Regions from separate parts of the Homo sapiens genome. Here region 2 is linked to region 1. A link means that fine-mapping ties the variant in region 1 to the expression of a gene that starts in the linked region. Tissue or cell type: tibial artery. Region 1 holds a variant in brackets; the other region holds the start of a gene. All regions are shown on one strand. Distances are from middle to middle.

Evidence for each region. PIP is the estimated chance that this variant, and not a neighbour inherited with it, causes the effect.
Region 2: it holds the start of CPSF4, and the variant in region 1 is fine-mapped to the expression of CPSF4 in tibial artery (GTEx, PIP above 0.99).

Annotation. Positions count from the first base shown.
Region 1 is chr7:99,919,168-99,927,255 of GRCh38, reverse strand. It overlaps TRIM4 (tripartite motif containing 4), which reads left to right and starts at 7,726. Exons shown (of 6, transcript NM_033091.3): 1 at 7,726-8,088. The coding sequence starts at 7,855. It overlaps GJC3 (gap junction protein gamma 3), which reads left to right. Exons shown (of 2, transcript NM_181538.3): 2 at 3,653-3,990. The coding sequence ends at 3,711. LOC101927610 (a long non-coding RNA gene) reads right to left here and starts at 7,653. Exons shown (of 2, transcript XR_001745296.3): 1 at 7,429-7,653; 2 at 1,942-6,072. RefSeq lists enhancers at 7,355-7,464, 7,705-7,784, 7,815-7,864 and a silencer at 7,995-8,088. The variant C/T (reference allele first, on the strand shown) is at 3,593.
Region 2 is chr7:99,435,315-99,443,402 of GRCh38, reverse strand. It overlaps CPSF4 (cleavage and polyadenylation specific factor 4), which reads right to left and starts at 4,460. Exons shown (of 8, transcript NM_006693.4): 1 at 4,218-4,460. The coding sequence starts at 4,320. All of the region lies in intron 2 of ATP5MF-PTCD1 (ATP5MF-PTCD1 readthrough), which reads left to right. PTCD1 (pentatricopeptide repeat domain 1) reads left to right here and starts at 4,605. Exons shown (of 8, transcript NM_015545.4): 1 at 4,605-4,711. It also overlaps the pseudogene LOC100131859. RefSeq lists silencers at 4,166-4,465, 7,964-8,088 and enhancers at 4,726-5,015, 6,312-6,837.

The DNA.
Region 1 (8,088 bases):
CGCCAACTTCCTAGGACTAAATTGAAAGGAAAACTCTAACTTTCCTTGCCTAAGTAACACAAGGACCAGAGGCTACTCCCTTTGCAACACCCCCACCTTTTCTGTGCAGCAGATGGGAAATTGCCTGTCCCCAACAAATCAGGCTGTTTGCAGATGAGTCTTCCTTTGCAACTTCGTAACTTCTTCCTAGCCTCTGATTGGTTGCTTTCTGCAAAGCATGAACTGGCCAAAGGGAAACTTCTAGTGGGTACTGGGACCCAAGAAGATTGTGTATCCGTGCCCTTGAACCGCTGCTCGGATTGCTCCCACACTGTGGCGTGTACTTTGGTTTTCAATAAATCCCTGCTTTCGTTCTTTTGTTGCTTCATCCTTTCTTTGCTTTGCTAGGAGTTTTGTCCAATTCCTTGTTCAAAACGCCAAGAACCTGGACAACTTGCAGTCACTATCCTCTACCAGTGACAAAAGTATACAATTAAATAGCCTTTAGTATATTCAGAGTTGTATATCCATCAACACTACCAATTTAATAACATTTTCATCAACTTAAAAAAACCCTACCCCCTCATGTTACTCTCAAACTCTTATTAGCACCCAAAACATGCAACCATCATATGGTTTTGTCTCTATTGGTTTTCCTACTCTTTCATACAAATGGAATCATGCAATATGTGGTCTTTCATGTCTGGCTTCTTTCACTGAGCATAACTTGAGGTTCATTCATGTTGTGGCATGTTTCAGTATTACATTCCTTTATATGGTTGAGTGTTATTCCACTGTTAGGATATACCACATTTTGTTTAAGGAGATACCACATTTTGTTTATACATTCTTCAGTTTCAGGACATTTGGGTTGTTTCCATTTTTTGGCTCTTATGACCACTGTTGCTATGAACATATGTGTACCACTTTTTTTTTTTTTTTTGGGATGGAGTCTCACTCTGTCACCCAGACTGGAGTGCAGTGGTGTGATCTTGGCTTATTGCAACCTCCACTTCCTGGGTTCAAGCGATTCTCCTGCTTCAGCGTCCTGAGTACCTGGGACTACAGGTGCGCACCACCACACCCAGCTAATTTTTGTATTTTTTGTAGAGACAGGGTTTTGCCATGTTGGCCAGGCTGGTCTCAAACTCCTGACCTCAGGTTATCTGCCTGCCTCAGCTTCCCAAAGTGCTGGAACAACAGTCCTGAGCCACCACACCTGGCCCCAGTTTTAGTGTTGTGTAAACACATGTTGTCAGTTCTCTTGCATAAATAACCAGGAATAGAATGTCTGGGTCATAAGGAAACTCCACGTTTCAACTTTTGAGGAACTGCCAAACTCTTTTCCACAGCAGCTGCACTATTTTTACATTCCTACCAGCAATGTGGGAATACTTTTTATTTATCTATTAAATTCTAGCCATCCTAGTGGGTGTGAAGTGGTATCTCATTGTAGTTTTGATTTGCACTTGCCTAATGGCTAATTACATTGAACATTTTCCATGTGCTTAGTGGTTATTTGTATATCTTCTTTGGAGAAATGTCTATTCAAATCCTTTTCCCATTTATAAATAGAGTTTTTTGTATTTTTGTTGTTGCATTGTAAGAGCTCTTTATATATTGTGGGTATTAGATACTTATTGTATGTATGATTTCCAAATATCTTCTCCCATTCTATGATTGTCTTTCACTTTCTTGATAGTGATGCACAAAAGTTTTAAATTTTAATGAAGTCTAACATCCAATTTTTTCTTTTGTTGCTTATGATTTTTGTGTATTACCTAAGAAACTATTGCCTAATTCACAGCCATAAAGATTAATGCCTATGTTTCCATAAGAGTTGTATAGTTTCAGCTCTTACATTTAGGTCTCTGGTTGGTTTTGAGTTAATTTTTGTGTATGGTGTAAGATAAATGTCAAACTTTATCTTTTGCATGTGGATATTCAATTGTCTCAGCACTATTTCTTTTTTAAAAACTTTTTTTATTTAAATGGGTACATAGTAGGTTATATATTTATGGGGTATACAAGGTATTTTGATACAGGTATGCAATGTGTAATAGTCACATCAGGGTAAATGGGGTATTTATCACCTCAAGCCTTCAGCCTTTGTTATAAATAATCCAATTATACTAGTTATTTTATAATGTACAATTATTTTTGACTGTAATCACCCTGTTGTGCTATCAACTACTAATTCTTATTCATTCTATTTTTTGTACCCATTAACCATCTCCACTTTCCCCCTACTACCCTTCCCATCCTTGGTAATCATCAGAGAAGATATACAGATAATAAGAAAGCATATGAAAAGATGTTTAACATCATTTATCATTAGAGAAATGAGAATGATTGACTTTAGGGTTAGGGAAGAGAAATACAAGATAAGACTGGAGGATTTTGTAGCGGTAGAAAGTAAGAAAGTGCTACTCCCTCTTCCCCACAAAATGACAGGAGTTTGTCAAAGGGACACAGATGTCAACTGAAAAAGTTCCCAATGGCCAACACAGGAATAATCTGAGCAGTAAAATAAACAACATAGTATTGGATTATACCCAAAGTATAAAATAGGAATCCATGAATTCATAATATAAATAATTGAATAAATAGGAGATAACTGACAAATTTCTCATGCAGAAGAATGTAGATACTCCACCGCAAGGAGGGGAAATATAACTACTCACTTTTTTTTCTTTTGAGATGGAATTTTGCTCATCGCCCAGGCTGGAGTGCAATGGCAGGATCACTGCAATCTCTGCCTCCCAGGTTCAAGCAGTTCTCCTGCCTCAGCCTCCTGAATAGCTGGGATTACAGGCGTGCACCACCATGCCTGGCTAATTTTTGTATTTTTAGCAGAGACGGGGTTTCACCATGTCGGCCAAGCTGGTCTCGAACTCCTGACCTCAGGTGATCCACCCACTCAGCCTCCCAAAGTGCTGGGATTACAGGCGTGAGCCACCGTGCCCACCAACTACTCCCTTTTTAGGCATGGGCTGCACATAGTGACTTCCCACTAAACAGTAAAATAGGGGGAGGGGAAAGAATAACTTTACAGGGAGAAACCCATCAAATACTACCTCAGCCGGGTGATCAAGGTTAACATCAACAGTGATGAGCAATGTTGACAGCATGTGCCCCGGATATGATGTGATGACGGTTTTTGTATTTTCCCGTTCTAAAATTTCCATGGGGCTATTCTTTGTATTTTCTATTACTTCTCTGAGACTTTTAAACTTTCCATTTGAATAGCAGCTTTATAGTCTTGATAATTCCAACATGTGTGGCAACTTACATTCTGCATCTGTTACATTTTTTCCCAACGTGAGTTGAGATTTTCCTGGTTCTTCACCTGCCAATTAATATCGATTGTATCCTGGACATTTTGAATGTCATTAGGATGCTCTGGGTCTTGGTTAAATTTGGTGGAGGATGTTGATATTTATGTTTTAAAGGGTAATTAACCCATTTGGGTTCAAGTCATAAGTTTTGACCAGCCTTCTGAGGGTTGTGGTTCCAATGTCAGTTCAGTTTTCAAAGCCTTTGTAGTACTCTTCTGATAGGTCCCACATGGGTGGCACCTAAAGTGTAACCCAGGGTCCTTGGGTTTTGGGTA[C/T]GCACTGTGAAAAAGTTACACACTTGTAACTGTTACATCTTGAATTTTTGTTTTAAAAAGTTCCAGGAAGAAGCTTAGCCCAGGAAAAACAAAGACCAGTTGGACCCAGAGATGCCTGAGTTGGAGATGAACTTTGGCCAACTTTCCTCATCACCATACTTAAAATCCTGTCCAAGGAGGAGCTTATTCACCATTTTCTATACATGTGACATATGTAGCAGCATAACCGACAACTGGGACTGCGCTGCCTTGACTCCACCTCTACATACAATGACTCAGCTAACCAGACTAATAAAAGCCATGTTTGCACCATTGCTCAGGGAGGCATTGCTTTGGGGAATTATTCCCAGTGTCCTCCTTACTTATCGCAAGTAATAAAATCCCCCTGGGAAATCCTCCTTGGTTGTGGTCATTGGACTGTCCCCTGCCAAGCAATTTAACCCATTCATTGTGTGGGTAACAAAAGGCCAGTCTGGGACATGAGATCTGGGTCTACAGTTTAGTTCTCAAAGTCTTTGGCATGCAATTTAGGACCAGATTCATCATACCAAAAAAGGGAGATAGTCTCAACAGAATTCTCAAATTACTTAAATATCAGAGGCAGTGTAGAGAAGGAGTACTTGGTGGTATGGTAGGTTTTCTGACAGGAAACAAAAGATGGAGGTAAAATGGAACCAGTACTTTCTTTCTGAGAATACTGACTGCACCAACCATAACATGAAGCGAAGGCTATATCTCCCTGAAGTAAGAAATGTAATAAAGGAAACTTTCAGAAATAATAGATCATCTGGAGATGTTGGGCAGTGTATTTGGTAAGTTATAACTACCAGGTATCAATACAATAAGCTTAGTTTGAATACAATAAGCTTAGTTTCTTTTTAAAGAATTTATCCTGCTCTGTGTTCTCTGAGCTCCTTGGATTGGTTTGGTGTCTTACAAATTTTGGAAATTCTCAGCCATTATTTCTTGATTTTTTTTTTTTTTTTGAGATAGAGTCTTGCTCTGTCGCCCAGGCTGGAGTGCAGTGGTGTGATCTCAGCTCACTGCAAGCTCCGCCTCCCGGGTTCACGCAATTCTCTTACCTCAGCCTCCCGAGTAGCTGGGACGACAGGTGCCTGCTACCATGCCCGGCTAATTTTTTTGAATTTTTAGTAGAGACGGGGTTTCACTGCGTTAGCTAGGATGGTCTCGATCTCCTGACCTCGTGATCTGCCTGCCTCGGCCTCCCCAAGTGCTGGGATTACAGGGGTGAGCCACTGCGCCTATTTCTTGATTTGATGTTGATATTTTCCCACCAGTCTTGGATGCTGTGTTCTGTTTCTGTCACTCTTTTTGTGTGTGTGTGTGTGTGTGTTTCAGCAATTTCTATTTACCTACCTTCAAGTCTGATTTTTTCCTCAACTGTGTTCAGTCTCCTAATGGGCCCATGGAGGGCATTCTTCATCTCTATTATTATATTTTTTATTTTTATAGTTTCCATTTTATTTTTCCTGATAGTTTCCATCTATTTGCTAAAATCACCCATCTGAGCTTGCATTTTGTTCACCTTTCCCCTTAGGGCCTTCATCACATTAATCACAGTTATTTAAAATTCTCTCATATTTCTAATGTCTATGTCTTATGAATCTGGTTCTAATGATTGTTTTATCTCTTTGGACTGTGTTTTTTCTTGCCTTTCTGTATGCGTCTTTTTTTCTTTCTGTTAAAAGTTAGTCATGTTGTATTTTTTTTGCTTAAATTATTTTTTCAATTCTCTCTTCACAGTATGAAGTAAAGATTGTTTTTATGCTTGGAGATGAGTGTGTCTTTCCTTCTGCTAGGCCTTTAGTGCTCTTGAGTGCATAGCAGTGGTTCGGTGGTATCAGTCTAGTCAGAAATTGGGCTAGGTTTACAGTTTGTTGTTGTGGTTATCCTCAGTGCACAACAGACTTCAAATTTCTCTAGAGATAGCTTATGTGTAGGGTGTGGACTTTATTTTGAAAGTGTGTTTTAAAGAGGTCTGTATGGATGTCAACTCGATGCAGAGTGGACAGTGGTAATTTTGTAATATATCAACTTTGCTAAGCTAAACTATGTTTCCCAGAATTTCCTTTCCTTTTGTTTCTGGTTAGAATAGCCCAACAGAGACATGGTTGTGTAAGTCTTGAAGGGGAGAACTGAAGCATCCCTCCAGTTTTATACTTGAAACGGTGGTGCAGGGACACTAGGTGCTACTGCGGCTCATCTACTTTGTCACCAATCAGCTGGTTCACCTTGTTGGGATGGGGCAGAAGCTTTTCCCTGAGTCTTCCTTCACCTTTTTTGATTCCTGAGCTGTGTGTGTGTCTAGTCCTGTGGCAAAAAGTGTCAGCTCCTCTAGCAAGGATACTCATATCTTTAAAGTTGGAGACAGTGAAAGAATGACCAGCTCGTGTCTTAGGTTCCAACTCATTTTTGCTCTTCCCTACTTTATGTTCATCTTCCCTTCTTAACTGCTTGCCCTGCGAACATAAAGAAACATAGTGATTCCACTTCTCTGAATGAACCTTGGCTGGTATACAGACTTATAGACATTTTGTGATGGAGAAAAATTGTTAATTAGGGAGCCTCACTTAGTAAAGAAGGAAGGTCATCTCTGGTATGGCAGGAATAAAGACATAAGGATTTTAAGGGATTTACCTGAAAAGATTTAAATGACTACTGTAAGGGGAATAAATACTTTGCAGGAATGCTGAAACTTCTCATTCAATACTTAGGTAAACATATAGACACACAGATGCCATAAACACTCATGGTAAACATCAGTAACTGTTAAGAGCATTCCTTCCTGCTTGGTCCCTATTAAAGAACCAGATCCCTTCTCCATAGAGTATTCCAATTTGCAAAGAAAATCCATTCATTAGTTGTCCAATTTAAATGTTTTAGAAATATTCAGTGGAACTTTCATCAATAACCCCCAAACAGATACCTCAAGAACCCCTTTTTCTAATCATTTAATCATACTACTTACTGAGAAAAATTATTATAGGAAAGGCAGTATTTGATATTGGGACATAAAAAGAATGAAAAATCTGTTAAATAAGCAAAAGCCCATTAGCCTGAGGCTGTCTTGGTACTTGAGTTCCCATATAACAAAATACAACCTGACTTAGTATGTAAACGAACTGAAGCCTAACTTACTTTATTTTTTATAACAGCTGGGTTTCAGCCAATCACGGCCGAGCTTCAGCAAATAACAGACAGCCAACTGATCAGACCATGCCCCAATAAGGCAAATGCCTCATCATATCATTGTCAAATAAGGCAGACACCTAGATGTTAGCTAATGAGGTGATTTCTCTACTTTGCTTCCTATAAAAGCTAGCAGGTCATACTGCTGGACAGAGCTCTCTGAACCTCTTTTGGTTCTGAGTGCTGCCCAATTCATGAACTGTTCTTTGTGCAAATAGCTTCTATTAAATTTGTCAGTCCAGAGTTTTTTTTGTTTTAAACAAATATTCACAAGAAAAGGAAGAAAGTGGGAAGAATAAAAAGCAAAGCACCTCAGAAACACAAGATCGAAAATCCACTTAAGGGATATAGATAATTCCCTGAAACAGGTGAGCATATTATTTGTTGAAAGCCTCCATGGATGTTCTTTGGGATAGCAAAATGGTTGCTACTTTTCAAATTGGATACCAAAAAGGCAATGTATCTGCATCTCAGAATCCAAATCATCCCCACGTTAGCCAAACTCCAGGCCTACCAACACAGATCCTTCAAGTCTTCCTGGCCTTCCAGGCCCCTAGGCTGCAGCTCGCCCAGAACTCCTGGGACTCTAAAACTTAAATCGGTCTAACCAGCAGGCGAACACAGACCTGAACCCTCAAACTTGGAAAGAAAGATCATAGGCACCTCCCCGGTTGGCTCCCCCAGGGACCACAACGTCCGGCTCTAACGCCTTGCCCAAGTCCTCTGTAGCTTTCCACAGGCATTTCTGGGTCTCTATAGCTGTTTGGAGGAGCCACTCACCGGTCCCGTCCTGCCCCGCGCCTAGGCCTGAACCAACCCCCTCGCGGTTCCGGCGCGGATACCCAGCAGCTTCCGGTCTTGCGCGCTCAGGCCGGGCAACGTCCGTGCGTTCTTTTTGGGTCCTGAACCCCGGAAGAGAAACTGCGTTGTACCCTTTTACGTGAGGCGGTGACGGCGGTTCGGAAGTCGTCTGGCCTCCCCGCGGCCGCTCGCAGCTTGCTGGCCTCTCCCGCGCCTCACGTCGGACTCCGTCTCCGCGGCAGGGAAGCAGCATGGAAGCTGAGGACATCCAGGAGGAGTTGACCTGCCCCATCTGCCTGGACTATTTCCAGGACCCGGTGTCCATCGAGTGCGGCCACAACTTCTGCCGCGGCTGCCTGCACCGCAACTGGGCGCCGGGCGGCGGCCCGTTCCCCTGCCCCGAATGTCGGCACCCATCGGCGCCCGCCGCGCTGCGACCCAACTGGGCCCTGGCCAGGCTGACTGAGAAGACGCAGCGCCGGCGC
Region 2 (8,088 bases), 480 kb after region 1:
AGATCTTATCCACAGACTCCAGGCATATCTTGAAGAACATGCTGAAGAGGAGGCAAATGAAGATGTACTAGGAGATGAAACAGAAGAAGAAAAAAACCCCTTGTCAAATAGGAAGAACCCCCTGAAAAAAACTGTTGATGTGGCAGCAGAGAAGAAAGTGGTGAAAATTACATCTGAAATACCACAGGCTGAGAGAATGCAGAAGAGGGCCGAACAATTCAGTGTACCTGTGAGCTTGGAGAGTAAGAAAGCTGCTCAGGCAGCTAGGTTTGGGATTTCTTCAGTTCCAACAAAAGTCTGTCATCTGAACACACCTATGGTTAACTTGGATAAGCCGAAGGAAAGAGCTCAAAGATTTGGTTTGAATGTCTCTTCAATTTCCAGAAAGTCTGAAGATGATAAGAAACTGAAAAAGAGGAAGGAGCGATTTGGGATTGTCACAAGTTCAGCTGGAACTGGAACCACAGAGGATACAGAGGCAAAGAAGAGGAAAAGAGCAGAGCGCTTTGGCATTGCCTGATGAAAGGTTCTTGATACTTTCTGTTCTCCAGTGTTTTCCACTTCTCTCATTCTTCTTGGTCACATATATACTAAATGCAGTCTTGCCTTGCAATGAGGGAGCAGGTACCCCAGGTAAAACTGTGAACTGCCGCGGCAGTTTGACTTATTGCTGTTTCAGCTTTAAGGTTGTTGTGTTTTTGTTTTTGATTATATTGCTTGTTTTTTGTTTTTTTTTTTTTTTTTTTTGAGACGGAGTCTCGCTGTTGCCCAGGCTGGAGTGCAGTGGTGTGATCTCGGCTCACTGCAGGCTCTGCCCCACCGGGGTTCACACCATTCTCCTGCCTCAGCCTCCCGAGTAGCTGGGACTACAGGCACCCGCCACCTTGCCCAGCTAATTTTTTGTATTTTTAGTAGAGACGGGGTTTCACCGTGTTAGCCAGGATGGTCTCGATCTCCTGACCTCGTGATCCGCCCGCCTCGGCCTCCCAAAGTGCTGGGATTACAGGTGTGAGCCACAACGCCCGGCCGATTATGTTGCTTGTTAATAAAAAAGAAAAGAAAAGAAAAAAAAAGCACAGCCTTTCATTCCCACAGTCGGAGTGTGCTGGAATTCAGTGGGCTCCAGGGACCAGCTGTTCTGATGAGTCCAGGAATTCACCAGCCCCAGCTGCCAGACTAAACTGACCTTGGCATCAGAAACAGTTTCCTCTACAAGTAACCATTTTAGAATTGCTGAAAAACCAATGACAGCATCTCTGAAGCCCACTTAACATGCCTCCCCTTGCTAAATCACAAAAGATTCCTTGGCTTCTTGGAAGCAAGCAGATTTTGCTAGGACACAGCTGAGGTTATAGAACTTATGGCTGTCACAGGGAGGTCACTCCATTTGCATCTCAAAAAGTCTGAAAGTGGCCAGGTGCGGTGACTCACGTCTGTAATCCTAGCACTTTGGGAGGCTGAGGCGGGTGGATCACTTGACATCAGGAGTTCAAGACCAGCCTGGCCAATATGGTGAAACCCCATCTCTACTAAAAATGCAAAAATTAGTCAGACATGGTGGCACGTGCCTGTAATCCCAGCTACCTGGGAGGCTGAGGCAGGAGAATCACTTGAACCCAGAGGCAGAGGTTGCAGTGAGCCAAGATCGCGTCACTGTGCTCCAGCCTGGGTAACAGAGCAAGACTCTGTCTCAAAAAAAAAGAAAAAAAAAATTCTGAAAGTACTTCTGGTCTCTCTCTTTAGAGGTTAGAGTTGCTTCTGCTCAGAAATACACAGTTCTGGGAACTGAGTCTCATGTGGATAGGATGAGTATGCCTTATGGGCAAAGTGACAGTTCTTCCCAAAACTCAGATGGGGATGAAGAGGAGGGATGGGTGAGGAAGGGCTGTGGCCTCACTAGGCTTTAACTGAACAGGATATGGACAAGCAGCGAGTGTGGAGGGTGCCTACCGACTCTGAAGCCCTGGCTGGAGCAACACCCATGGCTAGGTGTGTCCCGGGCCTCAGGAACAGGTATGTGGGCCCCTCGCCACTGTACCTCCCCTCACAGGCTTGTGGATGTGTCAGATGGCAGAAGGGTGGGAGGAAAAGAGCTGCCCTGCGTGGGTGGTTCCATGGTCTCAAGCTAGTGCCATCAAGACAGGAAAAGGCCGGCTGGGCACAGTGGCTTATGCCCGTAATCCCAGCACTTTGGGAGGCCGAGGCAGGTGGATCATTTAAGGTCAGGAGTTCAAGACCAGCCTGGCCAACATGGTGAAACCTCATCTCTACTAAAAATACAAAAATTAGTTGGGCGTGGTGGTGGGCGCCTATAATCCCAGCTACTCAGGAGGCCAAGGCAGCAGAACTGCTTGAACCTGGGAGGTGGAGGTTGCAGTGAGCCGAGATCGCACCATTGCACTCCAGCCTGGGTGACAAAAGCAAAACTCTGTCTCAAAAAAAAAAAAAAAAAAAAGACAGGAAAAGGCCACATGTGCAGGGATGATCACAAGAGTCGAGGGGTAGGTAAGAGGGGGTGTGTGTGTGTGAATTTGAGCAGCTGCTTTTTAGGGAGTGTACAGTGGTGATGGTGTTTGTGCCTGTGTCAAATAGGGTGGTCTGATGATGTCTCCTTATAAGCACTATCTTGTCTTCTTGAAGACTTAATTAATTTCCAATGAAACTATCTTGTACAGAACTATCACCATGTAAAGTTGTGGGACAGGCAGGAAAAAAAAAAAAAAAAAAATATATATATATATATATATGCCAGGTGCAGTGGCTCATGCCTATAATCCCAGTACTTCCGAAGGCCGAGGTAAAAGGATCACTTGAGCCCAGGAGTTCAAGACCAACCCTGGGAAACATGATGAAATAGTGTCTCTACCAAGAAATACACACAAAAAAATTTGCCAGGCGTGTTGGTGCATGCCTGTGGTCCCAGCTACTTGGGAGACTGAGGTGGGAGGATTGCTGGAGCCTGGGAAGTCGAGGCTGCATTGAGCCATGATTGCGTCACTGCACCCAGCCTGGGCGACAGAGGGGCCCCTGTCTCAAAAGCAAACAAACAACAACAACAAAAACACATAAAGGGACAGACTCAGAGGTCACATGTGCATGAGAAGGTGTGACCGCCTGAGGGGAGTGAGGCTGCTGGGAGCGGTGGGAGACCCCGCTGGTAGTTGTGGGCGACAGCACACAACACTGGAGAGCTTGCCCGCCTCTGCTATGCACTGAGTGATTGTCAGCAAGTCCCTTCCCCCGCTTGGGTCTCAGTTTCCCCATCTGTGGATTGAACTCAGTGACTTCCACAAGCCCCCAAACTTTAAGGTTATAGCATTAGATTTCAAGTATGTCCAGATAGGAAAGAAGACACAAAGAAAACTACTGGTTTCTTTTAAAGTACAAGATATCCCACCGAGTAGGAGGTGGGAAGCCAGGAGCCACCATATGAAGGGGAGCAGTGAAGGGAGTTCAGGCCAAGGGTCCACACCAGCTGCTGGGTGTGATGAATAACTCAGAGTTGGGGTCCAGAAAAAAGTAGGGACGGGCCAAAAACTAGGGATGAGCTCCCAGGAGAGTGAGTCCTAGAAGGGAGTTTGAGAGTCTAGCTGGGGTCTCCTACAGAAAGGTGGTCCTTCCCTCAGCACATCTCCTCCAACCGCCTAGTTTTGATGAAATCAAGAAGAGACGCTCAACGTAGCGGGTGTGATATCCTAGTACTCTCCTGCAGTTGGGAGAGTGTTGAGGGAGAGTTCCAATCCAGGATAACCCACCCTTATTCAAGAATTAAGCGAACAGACAAGGTCTACCCTCCTACAGATTACCTTTGAACAGCCGCAGAGGGCCAAAGATCCGAGGCAGTGAACTCCTGAGTCCGAGTGAGGGTAAAAGGAGTCCCCAGACGGTGGAAATGGGGGCCTGGGAGTCAGGAGTCCTGAAACCAAGGGGAGCGTCCCGGGATCCAGAAGAGGAGGTCTCAGGATGGAGTGGGAAGAGTCTCGGGACCACAGATGAGGGAGTTCGGTAACTAAAGGGGAGGATCCCAGGACCCGGAGGAGGTGGGAGGGACTCTCAAGACCTAGAGGGAGGAGTCCTGCGACCAAAGGGGAGGGGTCCCAGGATCCAGAGGAAGCCGGGGGAGGTCTCAGGACCGAGGCGAGGGAGTCCCGGGATCACAGAGGAGCGGGTCCCGGGTTCGAGTCGCTCTTGCCCTCCCGCCCGGGCCCCGCGCTCACTGTCCATGCCGGGGAAGGGCAGCGGCTGCGCCCCCAGCTGCTGCTCCACCGCGATCTCCAAGTCAAACTTGATGTGGTCCACGCTGGCGATGATTTCCTGCATGGCGGCGGCGGCGGCCCCACCGGCCCGGCTCCCCCTCGGTCTCCTGCAGCCTTCTCGCCTTTACCCGCCGCCGGCCCCGCCGCACACACTCCTCCTTCGCTTCGCCTCGCCGCCGCCGCCGCCGCCGCCCGAGGGATGCCGGGAGCGCCCGGAGCCCGCGCCGGCCCTTGCGCCTGTCCAGGCACTGCCAATCGAGACTCCGCCGTTCCGCTAGTCCCAGCTAGCCGCCAGCCGAACACCGGCCTCGCCAGAAACCTGAAACCAGCCGCGTGAGTCGGCGACGCGGATTGCGCCTGCGCGCTTGGGGAGAGGGGGACCCGAGGAAGAGACTGGTTCGCCGCGGGGACCGGGCAGGGCTCCCCGTCGGAGTGCACTGCGCCGGACACTTCAAGTGAGTTCCTGTGTGATCCTCGCAGGAGCCCCGGGACCCGGGCCAAGACACGCCAGAGGGGAAGGAAGTGCCCGAGCCGGGATTGGAGCCGGGGGCGTCTGAGGAGGGAAACTGAGGCTGCAGAAGTCCGTGTGGAGAGGGGTCGGCGTTGGCCTGAGGGTCCGGGTGGGCCTCTGAGGAGGGGCGGGTCTCTCCGAGGAAGGACGGCCGCAGCGTGTCTCTAATTCAGGGTTTTTTCTCGCTCTGTGGCCCAGGCTGGAGTACAGGGGTACGATCATAGCTCACTGCAGTCAACTTCTCAGACTCAAGCGATCCTCCCACCTCAGCCTCCCGAGTAGCTGGAACTACAGACGCTGCACCACCACACTTGGCTAATTTTTAAAATTTTATTTTTAATTTTTGTAGAGACGGCGGGGTTGGGGGGGCGGGTGGCGGGTCTTGCTATGTTGCCCAGGCTGGTCTCGAACTCCTGGCCCCAAGCCCAAAGCGATCCTCCTGCCTGGGCCTCCCAAAGTGCTGGAATTGCAGGCATGAGCCACTATACAGCCTAATTCAGGGTTTTTTTTAACCAGGGTGGGGTAATGAGCTTGTGTAGGAACAAAATGCACCCCTATTTTTCTCTATGTGAAGTATAGCATTTCCTTTCCTGATTGCTGGAGCAGCCTTAGCAGTGCCTGAAACTGTGAGGGTGAGTGTAAATGATAGTTCCAGATAACAGTTTGTGCAGGGCCAGGCATGGTGGCTCACACCTGTAACCTCAGCACTTTGGGAGTCTGAGGCGAGAGGATCACGTGAGGTCAGGAGTTCGAGACCAGCCTGGACAGGATGGCAAAACCCCGTCCCTACTGAAAATATAAAAATTGGCCTGGAGTAGTGGCGCGTTCCTGTAATCCCAGCTACTTGGGAGGCTGAGGCATGAGCATGGCTTAAACCCGGGAGGCAGAGGTTGCATTGAGCCGAGATTGTACCACCCCACTCCAGCCTGGTGACAGAGTGAGACGCAAAAAAACCCAGTTTGTGCAGCAACTACAAGGTGGTATCTTAAGCTGTCACTTACATTTATTACTGCTTTGAAATTATGATAGAGTCGGCCGGGCGCGGTGGCTCACGGCTGTAATCCCAGCACTTCGGGAGGCCGAGGCGGGCGGATCACAAGGTCAAAAGATCCAGACCATCCTGGCCAACATGGTGAAACCCTGTCTCTACTAAAAATACAAAAATTAGCTGGGCTTGGTGGCATGCGTCTGTAGTCCCAGCTCCAGGGGAGGCTGAGGCAGGAGAATCGCTTGAATCCGGGAGGCGGAAATTGCAGTGAGCCGAGGTCACGCCTGAGGACAGAGTGAGAGACTGTCTCAAAAAAAAAAAAAGAAAAGAAAAGAAATTATGATAGGGTCTTGTTATTTCATGCATTGAAAATAAGCATCTATACTAGTATAGCAGAAATTTGTTTTTAAAGCATTTTGATGCCATTTCAATATCATTGCTTTTTGTTTTGTAATTCTGTGTATTGTAATTAATGCACGTAAGGCAGGGCATGGAGGCTTACGCCTGCAATCCCAACACTTTGGGAGGCCAAGGCTGGAGGATTGCTTGAGGCCAGGAGTTCTAGACCAGCCTGGCAACATAGGGAGACTCCATCTCTACAAAAAAATACAAAAAATTAGACAGGTATGGTGGTGTGCACCAGTAGTGCTAGTTAATTGAGAGGCTGAGGTAGGAGGATCACTTGAGCCCAGGAGTTGGAGGTTGCAGTGATTGTGCATTTGCACTCCACTGTGCCATCGCACTCCAGCCTGGGCAACATGAAGACCCCATTCCACAAAAAAGAAAATTACATAAACACCATGCTTGTAAGAAGGAGTGGCAGGGCTTGCCAGATGCAGAATGATAAAGGCCCCCTGCACTAGTTTCACAAAAGGTGCTGGTCAGGACAATCATCAATGCGTTACATGGACCTGAGTTCAAAGCCAGCCCAGCCCAAGCTGGCCAGTCTCACCCACTGCACTGCTGCAGGACCCCAGCAAGTCTCTCCCCTTGCTGGGCCTAGTTTTTTGTTTGTTGTTGTTGTTGTTGTTTTGAGATGGAGTCTTGCTCTGTCGCTCAGGCTGGAGTGCAATGGCGCGATCTTGGCTCACTGCAACCTCTGCCTCCCACGTTCAAGTGATTCTCCTGCCTCAGCCTCCCAAGTAGCTGGGATTACAGGGGCACGCTGTCACGCCCAGCTAATTTTTATATTTTCGGCAGAGATAGGGTTCACCACGTCAGGCTGGTCTCGAACTCCTGACCTGAGGGGATCCACCCACCTTGGCCTCCCAAAGTGCTGGGATTACAGGCGTGAGCCACCGCTCCTGACCTACTGGGCCTAGTTTTTAATCTGTTCAATCTGCCATCACTTGTAAGACTTTTCCAATCGCAACCTTCTAATATAACCAGACTCTAAAATACTTTAGGCTGGGCATGGTGGCTCATTGCTGTAATCCCAGTGCTTTGGGAGGTCGAGGCGAGAGGATTGCTTGAGTCCAGGAGTTCAAGACCAGCCTGGGCACATAGCAAGACCCTGTCTCTACCAAAAAATAAAATTAGCCAGGCATAGTGGCTCACACCTGTAGTTCCAGCTACTCGGGAGGCTGAAATGGGAGGATCGCTTGAGCACAGGAGGGTGGGGCTGCAGTGAGCTATGTCTGACCTGAACCTAGGCTTTCTAACCTCTGGGCCCATACTTCTTATTTTATTTATTATTATTATTTTTTTTTTTTTCTGAGACAGAGTCTCACTGTCACTCAGGCTGGAGTGCAGTGGCGCGATCTCAGCTCACTGCAAGCTCCGTCTCCTGGGTTCAAGCGATTCTCCTACCTCAGTCTCCTCAGTAGCTGGGATTAGACGTGTAGCACCACACCCAGCTCATGTTTTTTGTATTTTTAGTAGAGATGGGGTGTCGCCAGGCTGGTCTTGAACTGATCTGCCCGCCTCGGCCTCCCAAAGTGCTGGGAGTGCAGGCATGAGCCACCGCCCCTGGCCTGTTCTTTTTCTTTCTTTCTTTTCTTTTTTTTTTCGAGACAGAGTCTCACTCTGTCACCCAGGTTGGAGTATGGTGGCGCAATCTCAGCTCACTGCAAGCTCCATCTCCCAGGTTCAGGTGATTCTCCTGCCTCAGCCTCCTGAGTAGCTGGGATTACAGGCGCACAGCACCAAGCCTGGCTAATTTTTGTATTTTTCATAGAGACGGGGTTTCACCATGTTGTCCAGGCTGGTCTCAAACTCCTGACCTCAAGTGATATGCCAGCCTCGACCTCCCAAAGTGCTGGGATTACAGGCATGAGCCACCGCGCCTGGCCTGGGCCCATACTTGTAACCACTTCTTTCTTTCTGCCTTTTGT